Regions from separate parts of the Homo sapiens genome. Here region 1 is linked to region 2. The links come from fine-mapping of genetic effects on gene expression. A gene starts in region 2. The other region holds a variant in brackets. All regions are shown on one strand. Distances are between the middles of the regions.

Region 1 (14,603 bases), 27 kb after region 2:
TGAGTGGCTGGCATGAGGTTTCCTGGGAGTCGAGAGGAACTCCCTGCTGGCCCTGAAGCCCAGGTGTGGCTGTGCCGGGAGACCGGGTGGCCTGGCTTTTCTCTGCCTGCCCCGTGGCCAGAGCTGCTCTCAGACCCATGCTGGCCCCATCCTCTGACCTCACTATTGCTGCTTCCTGGTCCTGCTGGTTCCTGTCCAGCGGCTACAGTGACTGTTAAAGCCTGGTGGGTCCCAGTCCTCACTCAGACCCCCAACAACAGACCTCACTCAGACCCCCAACAACAGACCTCACTCAGACCCCCAACAACAGACCTCACTCAGACCCCCAACAGACCTCACTCAGACCCCCAACAGACCTCACTCGGACCCCCAACACCCGAACAGACCTCACTCAGACCCGCAACAGTCACCCACTTCGCTTAGCCTCAGGAAGGAAGTCCGTGGTGGGGTCTGGATCTGTGGTATGACCCCACTGTCCCCGTGGGCTATGCGTTCTCAGCCCCTGGGCCTTCTTGTGGGCTCTGCCATGCAGCTCCTTCACTTCCTCATGCCCTGCAGCCTCAATCTCAATGCCACCTGTTCAAAGCCTGGCCTGGCCTTTTTTTTTTTTTTTTGAGATGGAGTTTTGCCCTCGTTGCCCAGGCTGGAGTGCAATGGTGCGATCTCGGCTCGCTGCAACCTCGGCCTCCTGGGTTCAGGTGATTCTCCTGCCTCAGCCTCCAGAGTAGCTGGGACTACAGACACCTGCCACCATGGCTGGCTAATTTTTATATTTTTAGTAGAGATGAGGATTAACCGTGTTGACCAGACTAGTCTCGAACTCCTGACCTCAGGTGATCTGCCTGCCTCAGCCTCTTAAAGTGTTGGGATTACAGGCGTGAGCCACTGTGACCCGTTGGCCTGGCCTTATTGGAACAACAGCCCCTGCCCCCTGTTGCTTTCCCCGAGCCCCGCTGGCTATAGGTTGCCGTCCTTGGTGGCAGAGGCATGCCTGCTGTACACTTGATGTGAACGAAGGAAGGAAGGAACGAAGGAAGGAGCCAAATGCCAGACGCCTGGGAAGCGGCTGGGTGCTCCAGGTGTTACCGGGGGTGGGGAAGGGCTTGGCCAGGTGCAGCTGCGAGGGTGGTGCTCCAGGCAGATGGGTTGATAGGCTGGGGTGGGTGGGTGGGGGTGGGCAGGAGCCTTGGGAACCCCAAGGGTGCTCTGAGCTGAGAGGGCGTGGACAGAGTCCTGGTGGGGGTGTGGATGGAGCCCTGGGGGGTGTGGATGGAGCTGACGGGGGTGGTTTGTGGACAGAGCCCTTGGGGGGTGTGGACACAGTCCTGGGGGTGGTGTGGACAGAGTCCTGGGGGGTGTGGATGGAGCCCTGGGGGGGTATGGATGGAGCATGTTGGGGGGTGTGGATGGAGCTCTGGGGGGGTATGGATGGAGCCCTGGGGGGGTGTGGATGGAGCATGTTGGGGGGGGTGGACAGAGCTCTGGGGGGGGTGTGGACGGAGCCCTGTTGGGGGGTGTGGATGGAGCATGTTGGGGTGTGTGGATGGAGCATGTTGGGGGGTGTGGATGGAACTCGGGGGGTGTGGATGGAGCTCTGGGGGGTATGGATGGAGCCCTGGGGGGTGTGGATGGAGCATGTTGGGGGGTGTGGACAGAGCTCTGGGGGGGGGTGTGGACGGAGCATGTTGGGGTGTGTGGATGGAACTCTGGGGGGGTGTGGATGGAGCCCTGGGGGGGTGTGGATGGAGCTCTGGGGGGGTGTGGATGGAGCATGTTGCGGGGTGTGGATGGAGCCCTGGGGAGGTGATGGAGCCTGTTGGGGGGTGTGGATGGAACCCCGTTGGGGGATGTGGATTGAGTTCTTTGGGGGTGTGGATGGAGCTCTGGGGGGTGTAAACAGAGCTCGGCGGGGGGTGTGGACGGAGCCTTGGGAGGCATGTGGATGGAACTCTGGGGATTGTCTGGCGCCTGTAGGCAGAGGTTTGCGGGCCCTGGTGACCTCAGGGAGCCCTGGAGATGGGCGGGGACTGGGCCCCGTGGCCTGGCGGGGCCATGGCGGATGTGGGAAAACGGGTTTAAGGGGAGCTTAAGAGGTGGGATTGAGGGTCTGTTGTCAGCTCGACGTGGCTAGGGAGGGTTCTAGGAGCGGGTTGGGGATGGCCCCCCACTTCCATCCTGTGCTCCTACCTGGGTGAGCCTCCTCGGGCCGTCCCCGGGTGTTCTGCAGGCAGGGGCTCGGGGGCGGGGCCGGGGTTGCCCAGCTGTGAGTGAGGCCCAGGGTCAGCAGTCATGTTGGGCCCTAGTTGTCTGTATTTGAGGGACAGTCGGAGGTGTGGGGCGGGGGACTGGGTGGGGGTCCTGGAGGCTGGGCTGGGTGTGGCTGGTAGCACGTTGGTTAGGGGAGGGGCTGGACGTGGGAGTGCAGTCTTCTGAGACATCTTGGGAGGCCAGGCCTGTCCTTAGCTGGATGAGGCCGAGGCACTGGGACGTGCGTGGGGTGGGCGGCGGGTGAGGACCAGGGAAGGGCTGGCAGGCGTGGGGTTGGGCCTTGCTGGGGAAGTGTGGTTTTCCCCAGCTTAGCCAGGCCTTGGGGCTGGTTGGATGGGGTGTGCTGAGGGATGGAGTGAGCCTGGCCTGCCTGGACACTGCCCAACGCAGCATCCCCCCGGGGTGGGAAGCCAGCAGGCCCTGAGGTGACTCAGCCCCAGCCCCCTCCTCTGGGCCCCACCTGGAAGGAGCCAGGGCTGGGCTCAGGGGTCAAGAGCACACCAGGGGTAGACTGGGGGGTTCCTGGGCAGTGAGGGCTGAGAGGCTGTGGAATGTGGGTACCCAGTGCTGGGTAGTACAGGGCATGTCCCGGGGGTCCCACCTGTCTGAGCATGTCTGTGAGTGACGGTCTCCGTGGGCTGCACTAGGCGGAGCAGGGGGCCAGCCCTGTGGTCTCTTTGCTTGGCTGACAGCATCGCCTGTCGCCATGGCTGGGGTACAAGGGCCAGGTGGCCCGGGGGCAGAGGGGGCATAGTGGCCATGGTCTGAGGCTGTGCTGGGCAGTCCCAGGACCTCTTGGCCTCAGTTTCCCCAACTGTACCGCAAGGGCCCCTCCTGCCACCTGTTCTGTGTGAGGGTGGAGGTAGGTGTGGGTTTGCCTGTGTGCTGTATGCCTGCAGGACCTGAGCTCCGGCCTGTTGGGGCCTCTGGCTGGGCGCCCTGTACTTGGCCACCCCGTGCACTTGGTGGAGGCCGCCAGCGTGGTGATGGGGCCCCACGTTCTCCCCCGTGGTCACCCCCAGTGAGGCACCAAGGGGCGTTCCACAGGAAACGCTCGGGTCCCGGCTGCCCATGGGGCCCCTGTCTGTGGCCACTCCAGCCAGGCTGCCCTTTGCCCACCTCTCCCCCCGGTCGCTCTTCCTGTGCTCCGTGCTGACTTGAGCCAGCTCAGGGCAGGCTGGGCCTCTGGCACCCCAACGGTAGGGAGCCCAGGCCCCTGAGCCCGCGTGGCCTGGAGGGGCAGTCTCCCTCCCTTGAGCTGGGTCATTTTTGGGTCTGCAGAGGATGTGGCCTGAGGATGAGGAGGGTGGTGGGTCCCTGGCTGGGGAGGAAGGGCCAGAGCCTGGCAGACCCAGGGGCAGCGTCTGAGCCCTGGGCCTTGTCCCACCCTGAACGAGGCAGGCAGGTGTGGCCTCAGGTACCTGACCCGCCTCCCCATGTCTGCAGCGCTCCTTTACCCTCATCGTGGAGGCCTGGGACTGGGACAACGATACCACCCCGAATGGTGAGTGAGCCCTGGGCCAGGTGGCAGCTCCTCTCAGCTTCAGCGTGCCTGTGGCAGGGCCCAGCTCCTCTGTCTGCTTGGGACAAAGCCTTGCTTTACCCTGAGGATCATGTGTGCTGTTTCCCTTTTTGCTTTGGCTGCCAGGAAGCTCTGCCACGTTTGGGACTTGCAGAGCTGTGCATGCACTCTCTTCCCCAGTCCTGGCTTTGCCTATGTTGTTCTCCTCTTGGGTGTGCTCTTTTGGGGCCCATGGCAGTGACTTAGTGGAGGGGACACCCTTGAGTGTGTCTCTGGCTTTGTGGCCCCCTCTGCTTGTCTGTACTGGAGCATGGAGCCTTGGTGGCCCTCTCCCTGAGGCAGGGGCTCTGCAGGGCCCTGCAGGGGTAACGGGATGACTTCCATGGGTGAATGCAGAAGCACCCACAGGCCAAGGGAGCAGCTCGTGTGAAGGTCTGGGCAGGAGCGGGCTGGCTGTGCAGGGGGAGCAGCCGGGGCTGGGCTCAGATCATGGAGGCTGGCAAGCCACTGAGAGGACACGGGCTCCGCCTGGCAAGCTGTGGCTGCCTTATGGAGGGTGGGCTGTGGGGCCAGGACACAGACCGAGGAGGAGCTGCCACGTGAATCTGGGCGTGTCAGGGTGACTTGGACCAGGGGCAGTCTGGGGGTGAGAGGGGCTCTCAGAAGTGGAGGCATGGGGTTGGCCAATGGGTTGGAGGAGGGAGAGCGGGGCCAGGGCATCCTGGCTGCCAGCAGAGTGGAGGGGCTGTTTTCAGGGCAGGGACGGCGGTGGGGGTGCCCAGGTGGGGAGCAGCAGTTGTGGGGACCCCAGCGGCTCAGGGCAGGGGTGTTTCCTGAGGGGGTGGCAGAGAGACAGGTGGGCTGAGTCCCAAGCAAGGTCGTCAGGGCTCTTGACAACGTGAGCCTGGAGAGGCTGGGGCGGCCGGGACGCCCCTTGGGGAGTGGGCCAGCACAGTGTCCTCCCAGGCCTTGGCCCGAGGCGGGAGAGGTGGGGTCTGGAGGACCCGTTCACCTTTTATTGTGCAAAACGTCGAGCCTGTGCCTAAGCGCAGGGACCGGCATCACGGACTTTGCATACCAGCGCCAGCAGCTGTGGTGCCCCTGGCCCCTGGTCTCCTGGTGGCTTACTTAAAGTGAGGCTTAGACAGCGGGTCACGGGACCTATGCCTGTCTTGGGGGCCTGAGGGGAGGCTTGTCTTAAGGTGGGGACGGTAGTGGTGTTTGGCACTTCTGGGAGCAAGTCACAGCGCAGGAGAGGGGAGGGCAACTGAGCACCATGTCCGTGCTGTCGAGGGCTGGACACGGCGCAGGTGGGTGCAGGTGTTGGAGCAGGGCTGCAGGTGGGTGGGCACAGGTGTGGGACGTGAGACTCACGCCCTGGCAGCAGCCGTGCCTTCTCTGTGGAGCCTGTGGTCTCAGCAGCCCTCCCTGCAGGGCCCCTAGCCCCTAGCCGGGCCCCCCGACCCTCTGCGTTTAGGGTGGGAGCGGGGCGCAGGCTTGGTGGCGGGAGGGAGAGGCCTCTCGGGGCCCTGAGCTTTCTGTAGCAGCCTGGCCGGGGGCCCTGCCCTCCGTGTGCTGCTGCCTGCTGTGCCCCGGCCTTGCAGCAGCCGCAGGCTTCTGCCCCGTCCCCGTTGTTCCTGGAGGACCCCTGGCCGGGCTGGTTTCTCTGGCCTGTGCTGACTCTGCCGCCTCCCCAAGAGGAGCTGCTGATCGAGCGAGTGTCGCATGCCGGCATGATCAACCCGGAGGACCGCTGGAAGAGCCTGCACTTCAGCGGCCACGTGGCGCACCTGGAGCTGCAGATCCGCGTGCGCTGCGACGAGAACTACTACAGCGCCACTTGCAACAAGTTCTGCCGGCCCCGCAACGACTTTTTCGGCCACTACACCTGCGACCAGTACGGCAACAAGGCCTGCATGGACGGCTGGATGGGCAAGGAGTGCAAGGAAGGTGAGGGGGCCGCTGGGCTGCGTGGAGGGCAGGGAGGGCCTCGGGCAGGGCCCCGGGCACAGGCCTTGCGGCCAGGCTGGCTGCAGCTGTGCCTCTCGCTCCTCTCTGTTCGCAGCTGTGTGTAAACAAGGGTGTAATTTGCTCCACGGGGGATGCACCGTGCCTGGGGAGTGCAGGTGAGTGTGCCGCCGGCCCGTCTTTGCCCTCCCAACCTTTGCCCTCACGTCCTCACTGGCACACACAGCCTTGCTGTCAGGAGTCGCCCGGAGCTGGCTGGAGGTTGGGCACACAGCTGTGAGAGCCGGGCCCTGAGCTCGGGAGGCTCCTTAGTGCAGTAGGTGCGTGTCTGAGCATGGGATGTGTCTGATGGCGGCAGCCATGTGAGGACAGTGAGGAGAGACTGGGGAGGCTGGCTGGACAGTCACGTCACCGAGGGGCAGAGACCCGGAGGCTGCAAGCCACCCAGAGATGGGGCATGGGCAGAGGACACGGTAACCCTGCCCATGGGGAGGGGGTGGGCGGCGAGCGGCCGGCAAGTGACACCAGCAGGCGAGGGGCGGCAGAGCAGACCAGTGGTGGGAGCTGAGGCCTGCAGGACCAGGGACAGAGGAAGGGGCTGCTGGCAGGTTTGTAGCTGGGCAAGGTGGGTGGAAGGGCTGTGGTAGCTGTTGAGTGGGGAAGCACCAGACGGGAGGCTGTGAGGGGGAGGCCGCTGTGGGGCATGTGGGGGTGGTGGGGGAGGGGCCAGCGGGATGGGGAGGGGGTCAGTGGAAGGGGGAGAGGCGCACGGGTCCTGCAGACATCCTGGGGTGGAGCCCAGGGGTTTGTGGATGGATTTGATCAAGCAGGAAGGGTGTGGAGTCAGGGAGAACCCCAAGCTGCTGAGTAGCAGAGCCATGGTGGCAGGAGGAATGCCACAGAGGAGCAGGCGGGGCCGGGGTTAGCTGGATGTGGAGAGGCGATGCCTGCCCTGTCCCTGGAGACACCCAGAAAGCTCGTGGGAGAGGCCTGGCCTGCGCCACGCGGGGCCTGTGGGGGGTGGCATTCAGGCGGTGACGGGAAAGTGGGGAAGGCAGAGAGGAGGGAGGCCAAGGAGCAAGTCCCGGCTGCCACAGGTCAGGGCGGATGGATGAGGAGTCAGCAAGGGCCTCCACAAGGGAGTGTCCGGGGTCTTACAGCCAAGTCCAGATGGTGGAGGCCTCTGGACCCAGACCAGAGTGTGGGGGATCCAGCCAGGGGGGCTGGCAGCTTTGCCCTAGAGTGGAGCAGAGAAGTCAGCAGGGCAACCAGAGGGGCTGGGGCCCAGGGTCTGGGGTGGGCACGGGCTTCGAGCCGTGGCGCTCACTGTGCGTGAGCAAGCTGGGGAGCCCGAGAGAGGGGCGCGAGCGGGTGGAGAGACAGCAGGTGGAGGTGAGCACCGCCCTCCAGCCAGCCTTGGATTGCAGGGGTCCCAGGACCTCCCTCTGTGGAGTGGGTTTGCCTCCATGGGACGAGGACACTGGGGCACAGAGAGCCTACTGATTTCCCCAGGGTCACACAGCGTGGCGTTTTGGAGAGGAGTCGGGGAGTTTGGGAACCAGCTGAGTTGGGAGCCAAGGTGGGGAGGTGGGTGACCCTTCCACAGGCCCCACGGTTGAGTGGCCTGGAGGGTACAGTGAGGAGCTTTCCCGGCCAGTCCCAGAGCGGGGAGGCAAGCAGGGCTGGGGCCGCCCACCCGGTCACTTGCACACACAGGGATTCCCGGCAGGTTGAGCGAGTCCCAAGTCAGCTCAGAAAGTGCAACAAGGTGGACCTGGTCTGGGCAGATGTAGATGTAGATCTACGGGAGTCGGCCCCACTCACCCTCGCCTGGCCCAGTGTGCATCACACAACCTGGATGGCAGTGCCACCCTCCCTG[G/A]ATGGCTGCTGGCTGGCAGCTTGAATGTCACACCAAGGCTGGAGGAAGGCAGCAGAGAAGTTGGCCATCCCTGCCCTTTACCCGCAGGAAGATGAGCCGGAGTCTGGGGGGCCTGGTGGGTGGGGGCAGTAGGTGAGCTCCGCCTGCCCCTCTTGCTGGCCCTGTCGGGGAGGCCCAGCTGTTGCTGACAGCCTCGGCTCAGGTTCCAGTGCAGGACGCCCCCCCACCGGATGCTGCGGAGATGGCCATGCCTTCCTGCCGCCGCCTCTCCAGGGCCCTGGGGCTGCTGGCTGGGGAAACCAGGAGGTGGGGGCCTGGTGTGGGCTGCCCTGCCCAGGGTCGAGAGCACGCCCTTGGGACCCACGAGGTCTGGGCTCTGAGCCCGGCTGTGGCCGCTCTCTGGCCGATGACCCAAGGTGTGTCACAGCCCCGCCCTGAGCCTGGGTCTCTGTGTCTGTGGAGGAGGGATTCTAGGCGGGATGTGAGGCCACCCACGCGGACCACTGTGCATGCTGGGCTGGATACTGGAGACACGTTCTTCCCGGCCTCAGTTTCCCCATTTGTGGCAGCTGAACTGGGCTGATAGGCCTTCGGTGCTGGCTGTGTGGCTTGAGGGCGGCTCAGGAAGGGCCGTGGTTCTTTCCTTTTACAAAAATAAAGTGTGGCGGGTGCCGGTGTGGAAGTGACGTGGCCTGGATGACATTCCCGTCCTGCAGGACCGGAGAGTTCTAGGAAGGGCCCCCCGGGAGTCCCGGCAGGGCCTGGATGGCAGCCTGCTGAGCCTTGGGGTCGTTGCAGGCTCTCTCCCCTGACGGAGGCACCCTCAAGTCAGGCCATGTTCTACCCTGGCCACCTGCCCTCTCCTGGGGGACTCCCAAGACAGGACGTTGGCCGATAGCCTGGGGCAGGGCGAGTCCTGGTGGTTGTGTCCTGGGGGGTGCAGCTGGGGGTGCAGCTGGAGCTCCTGCAGAATCAGGAACTACCCTGGGCAGGGCTGGCCCAGGCCAGCCTGTGGGCCTCAGTAGCCCCATCTGTGAGATGGGTACCTTGTGGGACTTTACTGGGAGCGAGCGAAATGACTGCCTTTGAGGTGGGGGCGAGGGCACGTGCTGTGCCCAGGGCCACATGGCCGAGGCAGAGCCAGGAGTGCTCCCCTGCTGCCCGCTGGCCTACCCAGCCCCTGGTGCCTCCCGGCCCTGGCAGCACCTTGTGAGTCCGAGCCGGCATTCTCATCCCCGGGGTCCCGGCAGGGCCTTCCTTTCCTGGTGCCTGCTCTCGGGGCCCAGCTCACGGGTGAATCCCAAAATAGCTCAGGGAGGAGTGACGGGACAGCTGGGGCTGACCGTCGGCAGCCAGCGGCCGGGAATGCCCGTGACAGTGGGGCTGGCCGGCAGGGCTGCAACCCCTGCCTGGCTGGGGCTGCTCCAGTTCAAAGGCCTGAGGCCGCCCGCCGGCCCTGGGTGTGGCGTGGGTGACTGTGCCTGGCTCCCCTGCCACCCTTTCAGGCACCACAGCTCACTGGGTCTTGCGCCCCTCCTCCTTCCCCCAGGTGCAGCTACGGCTGGCAAGGGAGGTTCTGCGATGAGTGTGTCCCCTACCCCGGCTGCGTGCATGGCAGTTGTGTGGAGCCCTGGCAGTGCAACTGTGAGACCAACTGGGGCGGCCTGCTCTGTGACAAAGGTAGTGGTAGGGGGCGGCAGGCCTAATGCTCTGCCATCGAAGTGTGGGTTGTGGGGGAGCGGGGGGCCGGCTTTTCCCCTGAGCATCCCACCCCTGCCCCCAGACCTGAACTACTGTGGCAGCCACCACCCCTGCACCAACGGAGGCACGTGCATCAACGCCGAGCCTGACCAGTACCGCTGCACCTGCCCTGACGGCTACTCGGGCAGGAACTGTGAGAAGGGTACGTGGGGGGCTGGCCACCCAAATTCTGGCCAGGCAGGGACTGGTTCCCTGGGGAGCCGGTCAGGCCCCATCCCTCTGGCGTCCTGTGTGGTGGGCCCCTGACCCCCAGCTTGGGAACCTGTGGGCTTGGGGAGGAGTGCTTGTGGAAAGCTGGGGGCCTGGCTGCCAGCTCTGCCCCCTCCCCGCGGTTCTACAGCTGAGCACGCCTGCACCTCCAACCCGTGTGCCAACGGGGGCTCTTGCCATGAGGTGCCGTCCGGCTTCGAATGCCACTGCCCATCGGGCTGGAGCGGGCCCACCTGTGCCCTTGGTGAGTGTCTGCACGTGAGTAGGGGACTCCTGCCTAGTATCAGTGGGGGTCTGGGAGTGGGGCAACTCGCTGGGGATGGGGTGCAGTGGTCAAGTCCACACGTGTGGCTGCGGCTGGCTTGGCGAGGACAAATGGCAGGAAGACCCAGGCTTGCAGCGCCACCTGCCCATGGGGACCTTATTCCCACGGCTCACACTGCCAGGGCCCCACCTTTCTCCACCCTCTGCAGACATCGATGAGTGTGCTTCGAACCCGTGTGCGGCCGGTGGCACCTGTGTGGACCAGGTGGACGGCTTTGAGTGCATCTGCCCCGAGCAGTGGGTGGGGGCCACCTGCCAGCTGGGTAAGGGCTCCGAGCGAGTGCATGGGAACGTGGGCCGCGCATGCGGGCTGCGGGGGCTGCTGGGGCTGCGGGGGCTGCTGGGGCTGCTGGGGCTGCTGGGCTGCGGGTGCCAGGTGCCCGTGCTGCAGGGGGCAGGCAGGGCCCGAGCCCCACGGCTCCCACCTTGTCTCTTTCACAGACGCCAATGAGTGTGAAGGGAAGCCATGCCTTAACGCTTTTTCTTGCAAAAACCTGATTGGCGGCTATTACTGTGATTGCATCCCGGGCTGGAAGGGCATCAACTGCCATATCAGTCAGTATGGGGGGTGGGCGCCGGCGGGTGGGCCGAGGCACATGGGACCCCGCCTCTGACCCTGCTCCTCTGCCCCCAGACGTCAACGACTGTCGCGGGCAGTGTCAGCATGGGGGCACCTGCAAGGTGAGGCGGGGCCAGGAGGGTGTGTGGCGTGGGTGCTGCGGGGCCGTCAGGGTGCCTGCGGGACGCTCACCTGGCTGGCCCGCCCAGGACCTGGTGAACGGGTACCAGTGTGTGTGCCCACGGGGCTTCGGAGGCCGGCATTGCGAGCTGGAACGAGACGAGTGTGCCAGCAGCCCCTGCCACAGCGGCGGCCTCTGCGAGGACCTGGCCGACGGCTTCCACTGCCACTGCCCCCAGGGCTTCTCCGGGCCTCTCTGTGAGGTGAGGTCTGCCTGGTCACCCTGCCCCACCTGCTGCTCTGGGAGCTGTAGGGCAGGCCTCGTCCCCTGACCATGGGGCCTGAGTGACCCAGGGGTGCTGCAGGGGAAGTTGTCCCCAAGGCGTCCCAGGCTCAGCTCTCCACTGGGTGCCAGGTGGGCAGGCGGGGCTGTCACAGGTCACCAGGCTTGGCCCCCTGTGGCCATTGCTTGTTGTGATGGGTTTCCTGGTGGCCTGGGCTAGGAGCCCCCGGGCTGCTGGCTGCCCAGGCCTATCTGTCCATCTGTGCACTCCCTCGGGACTGGAGGGCAGGGGGCTCTGGTGGGCAGAGCACATGGGGTAGGGTGGGTGCCTGATGGTGGAGAGGTATACACCTGTCATAGGTGAGTCCTGGGTCGGAGTGGGCATCTCTCTCAGGGCTGATGCTCTCGCCTCCCTCTGACCATCTGTTGGTACTGGACCCCCTCCCCCAACCTCCCCTTCCCCCCTGCCTCCAAAGTAACCTGCCTTCCCCCTTCCCCACCACCCCTACCACCCCCTTCCCCACCTCCCCCTTCCCCACCTCCCCCAACCCTGCCTCCCCCCACCCACCTCACTATCACCCCTCCCCTACCTCCCCCAACCCTGCCTCCCCCCACCCACCTCCCTACCACCCCCTTCCCCACCTCCCCCAACCCTGCCTCCCCCCACCCACCTCCCTACCACCCCCTTCCCCACCTCCCCCAACCCTGCCTCCCCATTACCTGCCTCCCTACCACCCCCTCCCCTTACTTCCCCTTTTTCCCTGCCTCCCCCCACCCACCTCCCTACCACCCTCGGCCGCCCACGATCCTGCCCTGGCCTTGGTGCAGAGGATGGGCCTCCTGTCCAGAGGGCTTCTTGGGGCCCAGGGCAGGGGTCTGACCTCAGGACCTGCAAGCATGGCAGTGGCTGGCCCTGGAAAAGACCCACAGTCTTGGCTCTGAGGGTGGCCAGGCAGTGTGTGAGGGGCTCAGGAGCTGTCCTTCCTGCCAGCAGCAGGGGCCAAGGCCACACTCCTCCCGAGGGACAGTGAGGAAGCTGGGCTGCAGTGGAGGTGGGGGTGGGGGCCCACAGGTATCTGCGTTCAGCTAAGGCCTGGGCAGTCTCAGGTGGGCAGGGGTCTTGGGCTCTGGCTGGCACTGTTAGGCCCAGGGCGGAGGGGCCTGGGGGTCCCCAGGGATCTACCTTCGTATGGACAGAGGCCTGGCCTGTGTTCCCGGCCTGGGCCTGGGCCTAGGCTCTCACAGGCACCCCCCACCCTGCAGGTGGATGTCGACCTTTGTGAGCCAAGCCCCTGCCGGAACGGCGCTCGCTGCTATAACCTGGAGGGTGACTATTACTGCGCCTGCCCTGATGACTTTGGTGGCAAGAACTGCTCCGTGCCCCGCGAGCCGTGCCCTGGCGGGGCCTGCAGAGGTGCTGGGTGCGGCATGGGGTGGTGGGGGAGGTGGTGGGGCAGGGGCGGGCCTGACTCCTGACTGTACTGCCTGCCATAGTGATCGATGGCTGCGGGTCAGACGCGGGGCCTGGGATGCCTGGCACAGCAGCCTCCGGCGTGTGTGGCCCCCATGGACGCTGCGTCAGCCAGCCAGGGGGCAACTTTTCCTGCATCTGTGACAGTGGCTTTACTGGCACCTACTGCCATGAGAGTGAGTGGCCACGAACGGCGGGCTGGTGGTGGGGCTGGGCTGGCCTGAGGCCCTGGCTCACCCCGCTCGCCTCTGCAGACATTGACGACTGCCTGGGCCAGCCCTGCCGCAATGGGGGCACATGCATCGATGAGGTGGACGCCTTCCGCTGCTTCTGCCCCAGCGGCTGGGAGGGCGAGCTCTGCGACACCAGTGAGTGTTCCAGCACCCGCCCACACGGCCTGTGCCTCCACCCCTGTGGGCCCCTTATCACCCTGAGATGGACCGCTGTCTGGGTGCGGCAGGCCCCGTACCCAGAAAGGCCTGGCCAGGGGGTGCTGCCACCATGGGGTGGAGTCCCAGGCTGCCCCCATGCCCGAGGCCAGCTCCCCCGGCCCGACGCTCCTCCCCCGCCCCTCTCTGTCCTCACCTGGCCCAGCTCCAGTGCTTCCTCCCCCGGGAAGCCCTCCCTGAGCGCCGGTGACCCCCCGCCCGCTGACCGGCGTCCTCGCCCCCAGATCCCAACGACTGCCTTCCCGATCCCTGCCACAGCCGCGGCCGCTGCTACGACCTGGTCAATGACTTCTACTGTGCGTGCGACGACGGCTGGAAGGGCAAGACCTGCCACTCACGTGAGTGTCCGCAGGCCCTGGCCGCCTGGGGCTGCCCCCAGGACCCTGGCCCTGGCGGTCTGGGGCCTGCCTGCTGAGCGGCCCATGTGCCAACAGGCGAGTTCCAGTGCGATGCCTACACCTGCAGCAACGGTGGCACCTGCTACGACAGCGGCGACACCTTCCGCTGCGCCTGCCCCCCCGGCTGGAAGGGCAGCACCTGCGCCGTCGGTGAGGAGCCCCCGCTGCCTCTGCGACCGCCGGGCATATGCCCTCCCAGGCACCGCTCCCTCGGGCGCGATGGGCCGAGGGGTCTTTTTTGAGGGCCACACCTGCCACCTGCCCCCTGCCCCCTGCCCCCGGGTCTGTCTGCCCTGTCTGGGTTGGGGGCGCGGTATGGAGACCCAGGGCCAGCCCAGGGCCAGGTGAGACGCTCCCTCCTCCTCCTCTCCTTACAGCCAAGAACAGCAGCTGCCTGCCCAACCCCTGTGTGAATGGTGGCACCTGCGTGGGCAGCGGGGCCTCCTTCTCCTGCATCTGCCGGGACGGCTGGGAGGGTCGTACTTGCACTCACAGTGAGTGTGGGAGGGGTGTGGGCGGGGGCCGCTTTCCTCCACCCAGATGACATCCCTGCCCCCGACTCGCCCCCCAGTCCCTTCTGCCAGCCCCTCCCCCTGCTGCCCCTGCCCCCAGCAAAAGGCACCCTCCTTGATGACCCTCCCCAGCCCCACAGCCTGATCACGCCAAGCCAGCCTGGACAGTGCCTGGCACGCTTGGGGGGTGGGTACTGATCCCCTGCGTTCTCTTCTCCCAAACCAGATACCAACGACTGCAACCCTCTGCCTTGGTGAGTGGCACCCTGGGGGCCACAGCAGGGGTGGGTGGGACTTGGCATACCACGGGGGGCCACCTGATGCCCACCCTCTGCTCTGCAGCTACAATGGTGGCATCTGTGTTGACGGCGTCAACTGGTTCCGCTGCGAGTGTGCACCTGGCTTCGCGGGGCCTGACTGCCGCATCAGTGAGTGGCCAGACAGCCCCAGCCCTGGGAGCCCCTCAGCCCAGCCGCGGTGTCAGGAGTCTGGGGACATCAACGTCCACGTCCCTTGAAGGGCAGTGTGGCCACAACTACTTCCTGCCTCTCTTCTGAGCCTCAGTTTCCCCACATGTCTGTGCCCTGTGGGGTTCCTGCTGTATACCCTGCCAAGTGATTAAGTGGGGAGCCCCAGCCTGGGGGACCAGTCCGGGGCCCAGGGAGCTGTGGGGGTTGGAGCGTGCAGCCTGACGTGGGCTCCTCTGTGGCCGCAGGGCTGTTGTCCCTGGGTGTTGGCCCAGCTGTCTGTCCAGCACCCCTTGGCTGGTCCGACGCAGCAGCTGGGGCTAATCCAGGATGGGACAGGCCCACTGCAGAAGCAGACGGAGGAGGGTGCTGTTGGGCCAGGGTCAGGCTGGGCTCAGGAAGGCCTCAGGCA
Region 2 (14,603 bases):
CCATGTTGGCCAGGCTGGTCTCAAACTCCTGGTCTCTTGTGATCCACCTGCCTCAGCCTCCCAAAGTGCTGGGATTACAGGAGTGAGCCACCACGCCTGGCCCTAGCCTAGACTTCTATACCCAGCCCAGCTATCATTCAAGGATGAGAGTGTAATAGACATTCTCAGATAGGCACGGTGCTCAAAATGTGTCTTCCACGCACCCTGTCGCAGGAAGTGGCTGCAGGATGGGCTCCACCAGAGCAGGGGGAGGGAGCCTTCAGAGGGCTGTGAAGGGAGGTGTCTGGAGGCCAGCTGTGCCCACGTGGGAGCTGGCCGTTGAGAGTAGAGGGTGTGACAGCAGGTGGCGCCCGTGGTGCAGCTAGGATGCTGCTTCTCCACCGCACCTGCTCTGACTCATGCCTGGGACCTGGGAGACGGTGGCGAGGCGCTGGGGGGTTACAAGCAGAACTGCAGAGCAGCCCCTGCCAGCCTCGTCACACGCCCTGACTGTGGGGACCTGGGTATCCTTAGAATCCTCTAGTCCCCACCCACTGATGGCCCTGAATGGCTCCTGTGAAGTCCCCGGGAGGCTGAAGACACCTTGACCCCAGGCTCTGTTCAGTTCTCTTCTCTTGAGACTTTCAGCTGACAGGGTGAGGTTGAGCCCACTGTGAGATTAGGCAAGACAAAAGATAATATAGCTTAGGACATGCAAAACAGGCTGGGTCACTGGCTCACGCCTTGATAGCACTTTGTGGGGGCCAAGGAGGGAGGACTGCTTGAACCTAGGAGTTTGAGACCAGCCTGGGCAACATAGCGAGACCTCATCTCTACAAAAAATATAAAAAATTGGCTGGGCATAGGGGCGCACACCTGTAGTCCTCACTACTTAGGAGGCTGAGGTGGGAGGATCACTTGAGCACAGGAGGTCCAGGCTGCAGTGAATCAAGATTGCACCGCTGCACTCCAGCCTGGGCAAGGGTGAGACCCTGTCTAAAACAAAAACAACACCCCCACCAAAAAAAGAAAAACAAAAAACAACCTATCATCACCAAAACTCCCTATCATAGGTGAAAAGAAAAGGCTTTTCCAGATGCCCAGAAAAAACAGCAGTTCCCAGGCTCTCCCTGCCAAGCACCTCACGAAGGCAGGACCTTCAGCCTGGGAGGAAGCCTTTGTGTACTCAGCCTCTTCTGCAGCGCACTCCTGGGTTGCAGGTGCTCCAACCTGCTCAGCCCCTTTGCTTAGTGAAGCCGCCCTATTCCTACTCAGTGCAGAAGCTTGGCTGCACACACACTCACACACACACCCCCCACACATACCCCCCCACACTCACACACACGCACACATACCCCCACACACACACCCCCTATACACACCCCCACATATACATATCCCCCCACACACATACCCCCCACCCCCCCACAAACATACCCCCCACACATACCCCCACACACATACCCACACACACACACACACCTCCCACACACCCCCTATACACACCCACACACACCCACACACTCACCCCCACACACATACCCCCTACACACATACCCCCACACTCTCACACACACACCCATACACATACACCCCACACACATACCCCCCACACTCACACACACATACCCCCATACACATACGCCCCACACACATACCCCCCACACTCACACACACACACCCCCCACACCCCCCATACCCCCCACAAAGATACCCCCACACACACAGCCCACACACACACCTCCCACACACCCCCTATACACACCCACACATACCCCCACACCCACTCACATACCCCACACACACACCCCATACACACACACCCCCCCACACACATACCCCCACATTCACTCCCACACACCCCCCCACATACTCCCCCACACTCACACACATACCCCCCCACACACATACCCCCACACCCACTCACATACCCCACACACACACCCCATACACACACACCCCCCCACACACATACCCCCACATTCACTCCCACACACCCCCCCACATACTCCCCCACACTCACACACATACCCCCCCACACACATACCCCCACACCCACTCACATACCCCACACACACACCCCATACACACACACCCCCCCACACACATACCCCCACATTCACTCCCACACACCCCCCCACATACTCCCCCACACTCACACACATACCCCCCACACACTCATGTACACCCCCCACACACAGCCCCCCACACACACCTCCACACACACACATACTGCTTCTCTCCATTACACACACAGACACACAGAGATGCACAGATACACACACACACACACACACACACACACACGGCCCAGCCCCCTGCTGCTCCTCCGGGTGTGGTCTCTGCTGTATCCCCCCAGCACCCCACTGCCAGTCCTGGAGCCCACCACTCTGCTCACTTATGAGCACTCTGCACTCAACTCCTGCCCACACCCAGTGGACTTCTGTGCCCCACACCCCCGACCTCCTGACCCCCCATCCTGATCCTCCTCCAGCTTCCCCTCAACTCAGCCTCTCTCGGGACACTCCCTCTGCACTTACCTCGGAATCCCCGCCCCTGGCTTTCCTGCACCCCTCCCGCCCCTGACTCCCCCACGTCCTCCCCACCCCCCGCACCCCCACCTGGGCTCTGTCATGCCTGTAGCTCCCTGCTCAGTGTCCTCAACTCTCCAATCCACCTGCTGCCTGTGACCTTACTGGGAAGGAGCTGAGCCATGGAGGAGCCCAGGGGCCCCCCTTGTACCTGCCCTGCCTCCAGCATGGCCCAGGAGCATCCCCAGCCCGGTGCCACCAGGAAGCCTTGCTCCCCAGGCCCCCTCGGAGCCCGCACCCAAGCCCCCTGCCAACAGGGGCCACTTCGCCTCCCTCCCCTCCCATCTCATCCTTGGCAGGGGCCCTTGCCTCACTCCCCTTACAGAGGAAGGGGGACAGAAGCCCACAGCGGTCTCCTAGGTGTCCTGCAAGAAACCCGCCCACTTGCTGCGGGGCGAGGCCCCAGGCTGCAGATCCTGGCGCCACAGGGTCCTGCCCTGGTGGTGATGCCCTCCCGACGCATCCTCCCCAGAGTCCACACCTGGATCCCCAGAACCTGCGAGTATGGACCTTCTGTGGCAAAGGGGACTTAGCAGGTTTGACTAACAGAAGGACCCGAGGTGGGAGATGGCCCCGGATGGCCCCGGATGACCCGGGGGGGCCCTAAATTGTGGTCACAAGGACCTCAGAAGAGGGAGCAGGAGGGTGGAGACGCGAGGACGGAGGCAGAGTCGGGGGAGGACGGAGGGGCGCTCTGCTGGCCTTGAAGGTGAGGAGGGGGCGGGGGCCGCCTCCGGAAGCTGGAGAAGACAAGGAATGGATCTTCCCCTGGAGCCCCCAGAAGGAGCCGCCCTGTGACCCTTGACCTTCACCCGGTGGGATGCGTTTTGGACACCCGTCCCCCAGGGCTGGAAGGCCATGGCCGTGCTGTTCCCAGCTGCTGGGTTGGCAGTGGTTTGTCTTGGCAGCCCTGGGGAGCTGACACTGGTGCTCTCACCCCACATGCCCTCTGGCCCCGCTACAGGGCATCTGCAGGGGCCTCTGCCACTATGCTCAGCAGGGTCTTTGAAGCCTCCACACTGCCAAAGCCAGAGGTGGCTTTTCAGAGCTCTCCACTGTGGCTCTCAGGCCACCTGGCCACACGGAGTCCTCTCATTCCCCCTCCTGGAGCCCCTCCCCAAATCAAGCTCCTCCTCCTCCTCCTGCACCTGCTTCCATGGGGAACGAAGCCATCCTCTGCACAGCCACCACTCTGGACAACAGCCAAAGGCCCTCGGACCAGTCTCCTCCTCCCCCGGCCCCAGGCAGCCACGGTGACCTCCCAGAGGGGCATCTGACCACCTGCCCTGCCCAACCCCTCCGAGACTTCCAGTGGCCCCAGGGGATGTGCCAAGCACAGGCCAAGGGAGCTGCCCCCAGGGCCACAACGCCTCTTCTGGCCTCGGTCTCCTCCTGCCAGGACAGCTTCCTTTCTCCTGCCTTGGATCTTCGGGTTTCTGGGGAGTGTCGTGTCCTCGGGGAGGCTGTCCTCTGCCTCTTGGCATGCCTGTCCTAACTTCTTGTGACATCAGGCCTGCCCCGAATCACCTGTTCGAGCCACCCCAGTGCACAGCAGGAACTGGTAAAGTGCCTGGGCTGCTTCTGCCTTTTCTCCCTTTCCATCTCGGAGGGACAGCAGGCCTCACTTGCCCTGTCCTCAGCTCCACGTGTGGGCAGTGGCCTTGTGGTCATAGACAGCATGGAATGTTCCTGAATAGCCTCAGTGACACTGGTTTTTCCTTTTTTTAAAAAAAAAAAAATTGAACCGAGCCAGGCATGGTAGTGTGAACCTGTAGTCCCAGCTACTCAGCAGGCCGAGGTGGGGGAATTGCTTGGGGCCAGGAGTTCAAGTCCAGCCTGAGCCACATCATGAGACCCTATCTCTAAATAAAATTTGTTTAAAATGGAACTGAAATTCACAGAACATTAAACACTTCACAGTGCACACTGAGCGGCATTCAGTACATTCATACTGCTGTGCGGCCACCAGCACTGCCTGCTTCCAGAATGCCTTCTTCACCCCAAACGGAAAGGAAAGCCGGCACCCATTAGTCAGCATTCTTCATTCTCCCGCCCTCAGCCCCACCAGTCCGCAGCTGCTTTTCCGTCTCATGGATTTACCTGTTCTGGACATTTTCTTTTTTCTTTCTTGCTTTTTGTCTCCCTCCCTCCCTTTCTCTGCCTTGCCTTGCCTTGCTTTGCCTTTGCCTTTGCCTTTGCCTTTCTTGATGGAGTCTTACTCTGTCACCCAGGCTGGAATGCAGTGTCAAGATCTCAGCTCACCGCAACCTCTCCCTCCCGTGTGCAAGCGATTCTCGTGCCTCAGCCTCCCGAGAAGCTGGGATTACAAGCACACACCACCACGGCTGGCTTTTAGTAGAGACAGGGTTTCACCATGTTGTCCAGGCTGGTCTCGAACTCTTGACATCACGTGATCTGCCTGCCTCGGCCTCCCAAAGTGCTGGGATTACAGGCATGAGCCACCGCGCCCGGCCTGGACATTTCATATACACAAAATCGCAGAGGACACGGCCTTTGTGTCTGGCTTCTTTTGCTGAGCATAGTGTCGCTGTCGCTTGTGTGGGAATTTCTCTCCTCATGGCTGAGTTGTGCTACCTTACACGTCTACACTGCATTTTCTGGATCCATTCACCTGGCAACGGATGCTTGGGTTGTTCTTCCCTTTGGCTGCTGTGAGGAAGCATCTGTCTGAGTGTCTGTTTTCAACTCCTTTGGGTGGATACCCAGGAAGACAGTTGCTGGACCACAGGGTAATTCTATGCTTAACTTTTTGAGGAGCCGCCAGGCTGCGTCCCACAGTGGGCTCCTTGCTGATATTTTCAGGCACTCAGCTCTGCAGTCTGCACTGCCAGACACCTGGACCCGAGTGAGTCTGAGGAGCACGGTGCTTTGAGGAGCTGCTGGCTCTCCCAGGGGCTCCTTGATGGGGCTCCTGTTGCCTCTGCCTGTCCCGGGGCTGCTGCTGCTGGAAGCTGAGACTCATCCTCATTTTCCATGCAACCACGGGCAGGAAGGAGCCTGCACGCGACATGCCAGGGTGCGCGCTTACCCTGGGCCCCTCGTGCACCGGAGGAAGAGGCCTGCCTGGCTGTGGGGTAGGGTGGGGCCAGCTTCTGGGCTGGGCGCTCTGGCTTCCGGGACACCAGGCGGAATGGCTAAAGCAGGGAGACACAGGCCCCTGTAGAGCTACTGGGGCGGTGACAGCTGGACTTGGATGCTGGCTTCATGACCGTGCTCCCCAGCGTTCCCACCTGGTGATGTCCCTCCCCTGGAATCTGCCGGAGGCCCAGGACTTTCTGACCCACAGGATGCCCCAGGAATGACACCATATGACATCTGAGGCCAGGTCACACAAAGCCTGGCAGCTTGGCCTGGCCTGGTGAACGTGCTCTGGAGGGAGCCAGCTGCCACGGGAGAATCCAACTACCCCGAGACCACCATGCTGCAGGGAAGCCCACGCCAGCCACATGGGAGGCCAGCCGGCCCTAGCTGTTCCAGCCACCCAACTGAGGGCGGGGGCGAAGAGGCCATCCTGGACGGTCCACCCCGTTTGGCCTTCAGACGACTCCAGCCCCAGCTGCCACCTGATTACAACTGCAGAGAGACCCCAAGACAGGGCTGCCTGGCTGAGCTGGGCAACCCACAGGCCAGGCGATAACGGGGTGCTTTAAGGCACTAAGCTTTGGAGGAGTGTTTTGTTACACGGCAATAGTTAACAGGGAACTGGGAGTCGATTTCAAGCTCACATGGCCAGTCCACCCTGAGCATGTCCCCTGGGCCATAGTTCAGAAAGCAGGTGCAGGTCAGGGTTCAGGGCCAGTGTGGGCCTCAATATTGTTTCCTGCCCCCGTGGAGGCCGTGGTGGCATTTGGAGGGGGTCCTTGGAATCCATGCCCAAGGAAGCACTGAAGCTGCCTGGGACCCTCCCACACCCAGGAAGGGCCGTCATCAAGGTAGGACTTGCAGGGGGAGGGAAGGGCAGCTGGCTTTTGAGTGGAGGAGGGACAGCTCCAGAGACAGCGTGGCAGCTCCCAGCCACCCTCGCCACCAGGAACCTCGAGGGGAGGCCCCCTCGGCCCAAGCTCTGGCCCCTCCAGCTCCCTACTCTCCTCTCCCCTAGCTTCCTTCCAGGGCCCTCTCTCTTTGGTCTCCTGTGATTTTCTTCCTGGGCCCACAGTCCCTCCCTCCCTGGGGGGCTGCCCCGCCCCCGGCCCCGCCCGCGGACCCCTGGAGTAACTTAATCTCGGGGTTGTGGTCCATCCCCAGAGTGGGGAGGCATCCGCTCGGCCCATCGCACCCCAAAGCTGCAGGCCCTTAGCTCCAACCACCGCCAGGCCCTCCCTCCCCCAGCCAAGAGGTCCCGAGTCCCACCCAAGCACTGTACCCCGGCCCGGCTGGCCCCGCCCGGCGGCCGGGGTCGACCCGGCCAGTCCTTCCCCCGGGCGACGCCCACGTGCCTGCGCGGCTTCCCTGGCACCGCGGCGACCAGCGCCCCGAGGCGCGCGGCACCCGACAGGTGGCACCTGCGAGCCCCGCCCACCTCGGCCGCCCCGCCCACCTCGGCCGCCCCGCCCCGCGCGCCCACGGAGCATGCTCAGAGCCGCGGTCACGCGCCCGCCCGAAGGCTCCTGTCGGGACAGGGCGCCGCCCCGTGTCGGCCCCCGCAGAGCTCGCGGCCCCCGCCTGTCCGGGCGCCGCCATGGAGCGCATCGAGGGGGCGTCCGTGGGCCGCTGCGCCGCCTCACCCTACCTGCGGCCGCTCACGCTGCATTACCGCCAGGTGAGCCCGCGCCCCCGCGTCCCCCGCGCCCCCGCCGGCGGCCCGGCCCACGACCCGCGCCCCGCCCACCATCTTCCGCGCTGCCGGCCCCGCCCCGGAGCCCCGCCCCCGCCTCCCGCCGATCTCCCGGGCGGCCGCTTGTCCGCCCGCCGGATCGCGGGTTCCCAGACCCAGTGAGCCCCCAGGCCGGGGAGGGGCCGCGGGAGGGACATCTGAGGGGGCACCACTCATCCTTTCAAGGAAGCATTGCTGGGCCCCATCCTTCCCGCCCGCCCAATCCGACCCTCTTGGCAGTGGAACTCCTTGGTTGCCCTGGGGATCAGGGAAGGCTTCCTGGAAGTGGTGGCTTTCATGCTACCACTTGAAGGAGGAGATAGCTGGGCCGAGGAGGAGGGAGCAAGGAGCGCAGAGGCCGGGCGCAGGGAGGTAGGAGAAGGAGCTGAGTGAGAACTTGAGAGAGCCTCTCAAAGCAGGCTTCCTCCTTGGGGTTTTTTCCAGGGAGGGCACCTCCTTGGAGTCTCCATCTGCCTAAGCTCAGCCTTCCCCACCTCCTAGGGTGTCACCTTCTCCCATGCCAGGCCACGGCACAAGAGGCTGTATTGCCTCACTTAGCACCAGGCACATGGTAGGTTCACAAGGAATATTTTGTTTTGTTTTGTTTTTGAGACAGGGTCTTGCTGTCGCCCAGGCTGGAGTGCAGTGGCATGGTCACAGCTCACTGCAGCCTCAACCTCCTGGGCTCAAGCGATCCTCCTGCCTCAGCCCCCGCCCCAGTAGCTGGGACCACAGGTGCACACCACCACACCTGGCTAATGTTTAAATTTTTTTGTAGAGACGACGTCTCACTGTTGCCCAGGCTGGTCTTGAACTTCTGGCCTCAACCGATCCTCCTGCCTTGGCTTCCCAAAGCATGGGGATTACAGGCATGAGGCATATGTGTTGGGTGAAGGAGCTGCTGCCATCCTTTTCCCACATCCAGTGGATCACTGAGTCCCGGGCCGTCTTCCTCCAAGCCCAGCCCTGTCCAGTTAGGGCCCCACCTTTTGCTTGCATGCCCACCTGCCCCCAGCAGATCTCCCCTCTGCCAGAGCTCCTTCATGCCATTAAGGCAAAGACCACCTTCCTGGTCACAGTCAGTCCAGCCCCCCAGCCTATCAGGTCAGGTGGTCCAGGTCGCAGTGCCTCTCTGCCTGCCTGCCTCCCTCCCTCAGGGGGCATCCTGTCCCCCCCATCACATCCAGGACTCTGCCCCTCGCCATCCTGGAGAAGCCCTCTTGGCCCCCAGCCTGAGAGAGGCCCTGTGCCCCTCACTTTCCCTGTTGCGGGAGTCCTGTTGGCGCTGGAGGACAGGGGATCCCTCTCCCCAAGGCGAAGCTAAGCTGGTGGTGCTGGCAGGGGGCAGCTGGGATCAGTCGGGGTACAGCAGGTGGAGACATGGGGTCACTGCCCTTTTCCCTGACGTTGGCCATATGGGATGCCTGCTTGTGGCTGCACAGTCCCCACAGGGCTGGGTCTCAGGCAGCAGGTGCAGGCCCAGGCAGGTGCCCTCTGTGGCCCTGGTGGCAGCACTCTCTCCCTCACTCCCCGTGAAGCCTCAGGGCAGCCCTTGCAGCCTCAGCGGGCAGCCCGCCGGCACAGCTCTGCTGAAGGGTTCTGGTGACCAGAGCTGAGCTGGTTCGGGCTGTGGCTGTGGTGGACACGGATGTAGGCTCGGGCTGGGCGGCATCTCCTCAGGGCCAAGGGACATTGGGCTGGACGCTGGCTGCCACCCAGGGGCAGCTGCAGCCCTCAGCTTTTTGCTGCGTCCAGCCAGGGGAGGCCTGTGATGTCAGGCAGACCAAAGGCAGGGGACCCCCGTGGCTCCGAGGCGATGGGGTCTTCTTTGCACCCAGCCCTGCCCCTCCCTCCCAGGCCTCAGCAGCCTCCCTAAACCTCCCTGCACCTTGACCTGGCTGGACCTAAGGGTCTGACACGCTTTTGACCTTGAGCTGAGAGGGTCCTTGAGACCTGCATGGGGTGATGTTACTCGGGGGGAAGCAGTGGTGGGGAAGGGGCATGGGCACAGCAGGCACATGGCAGGCTGTGGGCAGGGGGCTTCCCTGGAGCCTGCCCTGGCTGGGTGGTGGTTCGGGGGTGGCTGGGTGTCAGGCAGGCCTGGGGTCGCCTCCCGGGAGTGGTACCCCACGGCCTCTCGGGCTGCCTGACCTGCGCGGGACGCCGGCCCTCCCTTCCCTTGGAAACCGGTACTCTCCTCCCAGGACGCCTTTGCCTCCCGGCCAAGCTCAGAGGGCCTCTGCGCCTCTGCCTGCCCAGAGTCCCTTCCCTCACTTCCGTCACCTCCTCCAGAAAGTCCTCAGGAAGGCTTCTTCTCTCTTCTGCAGTCCTGGCTGCACTTCTGTGTCTCTGCTGCTCAGACCTCTTGTCCATTTCACAGCCCTGGGCAGAGCCCCCGGTGGGGGATGAGCAGCTGGCCTGGGCCTCAGAGTGGCAGATGGGCTGAGCGTGCCGGAGATGGGACCCCGCGGGACCCCAGGCTCAGCCCCCAGGATGGGAGTGCATCTCAGAATGCATCAGTTCCAGCCTCCCCCAGCAGGCCCAGCCCACACACCTGCCCACCCTGCCTCCTCCGTTCACTGAGTGCCACCCAGGGTGCAGGGGCCTGCCAGGGTGGTGTGCCCAGTGTGGGGGAGTGGGAAGGTGGAGGGTGGCCACAGGAGAACGGGACCACAGGGTATGTGGGAGAGTCGAGGCCAGAAACTGGGGGTAGGGGTGTGTGGGGGGGCTGCCGAGCCTGGTCACCATCATGACAGTCACCGAGTCCTGCAGTGCGATCTCCTACCTGGCTGGGGCGCCACCCTTCCTCATCTGCTCCTGGTGCCAGCCCCTCCTGCCACCCTTCCCCATCCACTCCTGGTGCCGGCCCCTCCTGCCCTCCCGTCTCCACCTGTTCAGTGGCCCAAGGAAGCATCAGCAGGAAAACCTGACCTCTCCTCTGCCTGCAGGGCCCTCCTGCCCTGCTGTGAGGGAGTCACGCCTGCCCTCCCCGAGCCTCCATGAGCCTTCCTATACTTGGTGACGGTGTACGTCTCTCTGCAGCCCCTTGTGCTCGGTCTGTGCTGGGCAGTGTTTCATGAGGTGCCTGGACACCTTCCCTGCCCTTTGCCCTGGTCTTCTGCCTCACTCGTAGGGTATTAGGCTGTCCTTGACCTCCCTGCCCCTCCCAGGCTGCTTGCTCCTCTGCCCACGGGAGCTGCAGTTCCTGGCTCCCGTGGGCCCAGGCCACGAGCCGATCTCCCTGGTTAGGAGTGGGTGCAATGGGTCTGTGGCCTCCTCGGTTCCCCGAGCACCTCCGCCCATCCTGGGACATTCTAACCGCTGACCTGCCCCTTCTAGAATGGTGCCCAGAAGTCCTGGGACTTCATGAAGACGCATGACAGGTGAGAGCCTGGCCCAGCCTGGCCACTGGGGAAGCCCCAGACTGATGTCTACGGGGACACTGGGCCCAGGGCGAAGGTGCCCTCTCCTCCCTGACGTTGCTGTTCCCTGCGTGGGCTCCAAAAGTCCCTTCTCTCTGCCCGGCCTCTGGGTTTCCTATCCCTGAGGGGTCAGCCTGAGGCCTGGGGGCTGAGTCAGGTCTTTGCTCAGGCCACCGGGACCATGATGGTGGGCAGGCCCTCTCAGGGCAGGGAGAGGCTGTCCTGGAGCCTTTGCCCCTAGCATCCAGGGTCTGGGCTGGATGGCGACGTGGCTCGAGGAGTGTGGCTGGTGGGCAGCTGCTCAGTGAGGGCCAAACGTCCTGTCAGTCACCCGGCCTCAGCTGCGAGCACCCTGACCTACTCAGCTGCCCGTGTGTCCTTCCCTGCCCCCCGCCTCCCATCCTGCCAGCTGGAATACAGCAGGTCTGGGTCCTGGCCAGACTGTGACCCTGGAAAGCTCTGGTCCCGCCTGGGCCTCAGCCATCCTATCTGAGCAAGGGGCCTGACCTCCCTGGGCTGCTGGCAAGGAGGTGGGATGGCCACGCTGGGAACAGAAAGATGGGAGGTGGGGCCCCACGAGGGCCAGTGGAGTGCTTCTGTGCTGAGCCCCTCCCCCCGTACACAGCGTGACCGTTCTCTTATTCAACTCTTCTCGGAGGAGCCTGGTGTTGGTGAAGCAGTTCCGGCCAGGTGAGGCCAGCTGGGGTGGGAAGGGGATCTGCAGGGTCACCTTCAGGTCCCTGTGGTCCTGAGGGTCTGAATACAGATGTGGGAGGGGGCTCCAGGGGAAGCTGAGGCCCTGGGAGGGGGCTTGGCTGTGTGGGTGACCTGGAGGTGGCCACCACGTGGCTGTGAGCACAGTCTGGCTTCTTCCCACGCAGCTGTGTATGCGGGTGAGGTGGAGCGCCGCTTCCCAGGGTCCCTAGCAGCTGTAGACCAGGACGGGCCTCGGGAGCTACAGCCAGCCCTGCCCGGCTCAGCGGGGGTGACAGTTGAGCTGTGTGCCGGCCTCGTGGACCAGCCTGGGCTCTCGCTGGAGGAAGTGGCTTGCAAGGAGGCTTGGGAGGAGTGTGGCTACCACTTGGCCCCCTCTGATCTGCGCCGGGTCGCCACATACTGGTGAGTGGGACCAGGCCCTCAGGCCTGTGGTGTGACTCAGGAGATGGGAGAGAGTGAGGGCCCCGTCCCTGGGAGTGTGCAAGCAGGATGGATTCCTCCTTGTTTTCCAACATGGGATTAGGGGAGGGTTGGACCGAATGCGCCTCAGCTCCTAAGCCAGGCCAGAATCTGGGCTCTTGGGGCTCTCTCTGCAGCGTCTCGGCCCCATGCCCCCAGCCTGCGGCCCCCAGCTGTGTGAGGCAGGCCGGGTGACAGCTGCTGCTGACAGGTGCCTCTACTTCCTGTAGGATTAAGACCGGGCGCTGGGGGTGGGGGTGACTCACAGCTCTGTTCTCAGAGGGTGGCTTAGGAATGAGGGAGAAGCTGTGTCCTGGGCTGGAGAAGGGGTGGCTCCAGCTCTCCTGGGGAACAGGCACTAGAGCCTGCGCTTTGGGACCTGACCCACCAAACTCGAGGCACCAACTCTTGCCCCGCGAGGGCTGCCAGCTGGGGTGGGGTTGCCTTCCCAGGACTAGATGTTGGTATGAAGCCCATCCACTTCCCCAGGGACGCTACGATGGGCTCCTGACCCCAGCTGAGGTCTTGGGGAAGGAGGAGGGTGTCACAGACCCCCACCCCCACCAGCTGAGCACCAGCCTCCACAGCCTCCTCCAGAGGCCAGGGCCCGCTCCACTGGGAGAAGCACCGGAAGTCTCTGCACCTGTCAGCCTGGCACATGGGCCACTCAGGGTTGAGCCTGGGGCCCTCCCACCTCAGCAGCCTCAAGGACTTCACCTGGGCACGTTCCTGGCTGGATGGGTGGACTCCCAAGTTAAAGGCAGCATTTCCACGCTGGGCCAGGCACGGTGGCTCACGCCTGTAATCCCAGCACTTTGGGAGGCCGAGGCAGGCGGATCACCTGAGGTCAGGAGTTCGAGACCAGCCTGACCACATGGAGAAACCCCGCCTCTGCTAAAAGTACAAAATTAGCCAGGCGTGGTGGCAGGAGCCTGTAATTCCAGCTACTCAGGAGACTGAGGCAGGAGAATCGCTTGAACCCAGGAGGCGGAGGTTGCGGTGAGCCTGAACCCAGGAGGCGGAGGTTGCGGTGAGCCGAGATCGCGCCATTGCACTCTAGCCTGGGCAACAAGAGCGAAACTCTGTCTCAACAAAACAGAATTTCCATGCCGAAGGGTGGACTTGGGTGTGAAGGATGGGCCTTGGTTTTCTGCAGGTGTCTACCCCGTGGTGGGCCACGCCCACTGTGCCCCCAGCTCCCCAGCCCATAGTACTGAGCACAGCCGGGAGGCATGGGAGGGGCTGGAGTCCCCTTGGTCCCCCTGGAGGAGGTGGGCCTGGGCAGGTTCCTGGCAGAGGGACCGCACAGGCTCTCAGGGCAAGTGGTCAAGCAGCCCTGGCCGCGGTGGTTCTACTGGTACAGCCTCTGGGCCACAGCCTGATTGTGAGGGTGCTGGGGAGCCAAGGAGGGCTCTGGGAAGTAGGCATCCTGCTTAGACTCGCATCGGGAAGAGCAGGCCGTGGCTTCAGGGATGCAGGACTGGAGATGCTGCTGACTAGGGGTCAGGGTGTCCGTCTCTGAGGGCCTGATGGGGGGCTGGACTGACAGCAAAGTTCACCCACCCTGTGGCAGGGCCCGTGGCTCCCTGTCTCTGATTCTGGAGGTGAGCCAGGCCTCTTACCTGCCGCTGCAAAGGACAAGGCCCAGGGAGGCAGTCAGCTTGGGGCGTGATGGAGTGAAGTTGGAACGTGCCCTGGGGTGGGGGAGGCGTTGCCCAGCCTGGCTGGCAGATTCCTCTCAGCCCGGGCCAAGGGCCGGGCCTGTCTCCTTCACAAGCCGGCGGAAACCGGGGCTGGAAACCCCAGACCCGCCACTTCCCTCAGAGGCGCAGCCGCGGCCGCCGCCGGAAATGGGCCATCAGGAAGGGGTCTGCGGGAGGTGAGGGGCTAGAGGGCAAGGAAGCAGCTGGGTAAGGTCGGTCTGGGGTGAGTCCCCCCGGAGGTGGGGAGGCCTTGGGGGTGGGGCATGGAAGCCCCCAGTTCTGTCCCTGCCCCTGTATGTTGGGTACATCTCAGAGGGCGGCCTCTACCCTGCAGGCCTCCGGCTGGCCTTGGTTCATGGCACCCGACAGCCCCTCCTGCGGCGAGCCAGGGCTCCCCCACCCCCTGGTCATCTTCCCAGATGCCCCTCAGTCCCGTTTCTCCCCAGATCCACACCTGGCCCTCCCCCTCCTGTTCCAGAATGCAGCCCAGCCCCTCTGCCATCCTGTCCTCCTAGCCCGTGGTCTCCCTCCACACACGCCAGTCCAGGCTCCTTCCCTTGGTGCCTGACCCCTCCTGGCTGCCAGCAGCCCCCTTCTGGCCACTGCCCACTGAGGGAGGGGGCTTCCTCTTACCCCTCCCCAGCCTGGGCCACTGGGCCTGGTACTGAGGACCTCGCTGCCACCCCACCCCACTCTGCCATGCTACGGGGGGTGGGGGGGCGGTCAGTGCATGCTGTTCCTAGTCTGAAACTTGTGTCCTGTGGGTGCCTGGTGGGGAACCCTTGCGGGAAGGCCTGGTGGGTTTGTCCCTGCTTCCCAGCCAGCCTGTGTCCCCGGGTATGGGCTGGGGTCTGGCATGGGCCTCTGCAGCTGGCCACAGACTGAGGGGCTCCAAACA

What was found.
Region 1: its variant is fine-mapped to the expression of NUDT14 in whole blood (INTERVAL, PIP above 0.99). The same link has a PIP of 0.9 or more in skeletal muscle.

What each region holds. Positions count from the first base shown.
Region 1 is chr14:105,146,875-105,161,477 of GRCh38, reverse strand. JAG2 (jagged canonical Notch ligand 2) reads left to right here. Exons shown (of 26, transcript NM_002226.5): 3 at 3,715-3,772; 4 at 5,489-5,740; 5 at 5,856-5,916; 6 at 9,187-9,317; 7 at 9,421-9,540; 8 at 9,739-9,852; 9 at 10,082-10,195; 10 at 10,374-10,487; 11 at 10,567-10,613; 12 at 10,701-10,874; 13 at 12,158-12,308; 14 at 12,389-12,541; 15 at 12,620-12,733; 16 at 13,039-13,152; 4 more. MIR6765 (microRNA 6765) reads left to right here and starts at 10,614; the gene lies at 10,614-10,700. RefSeq lists an enhancer at 5,889-6,487. The variant G/A (reference allele first, on the strand shown) is at 7,638.
Region 2 is chr14:105,173,876-105,188,478 of GRCh38, reverse strand. It overlaps NUDT14 (nudix hydrolase 14), which reads left to right and starts at 7,167. Exons shown (of 5, transcript NM_177533.5): 1 at 7,167-7,350; 2 at 10,744-10,787; 3 at 11,452-11,516; 4 at 11,708-11,945. The coding sequence starts at 7,270. RefSeq lists a silencer at 6,998-7,467.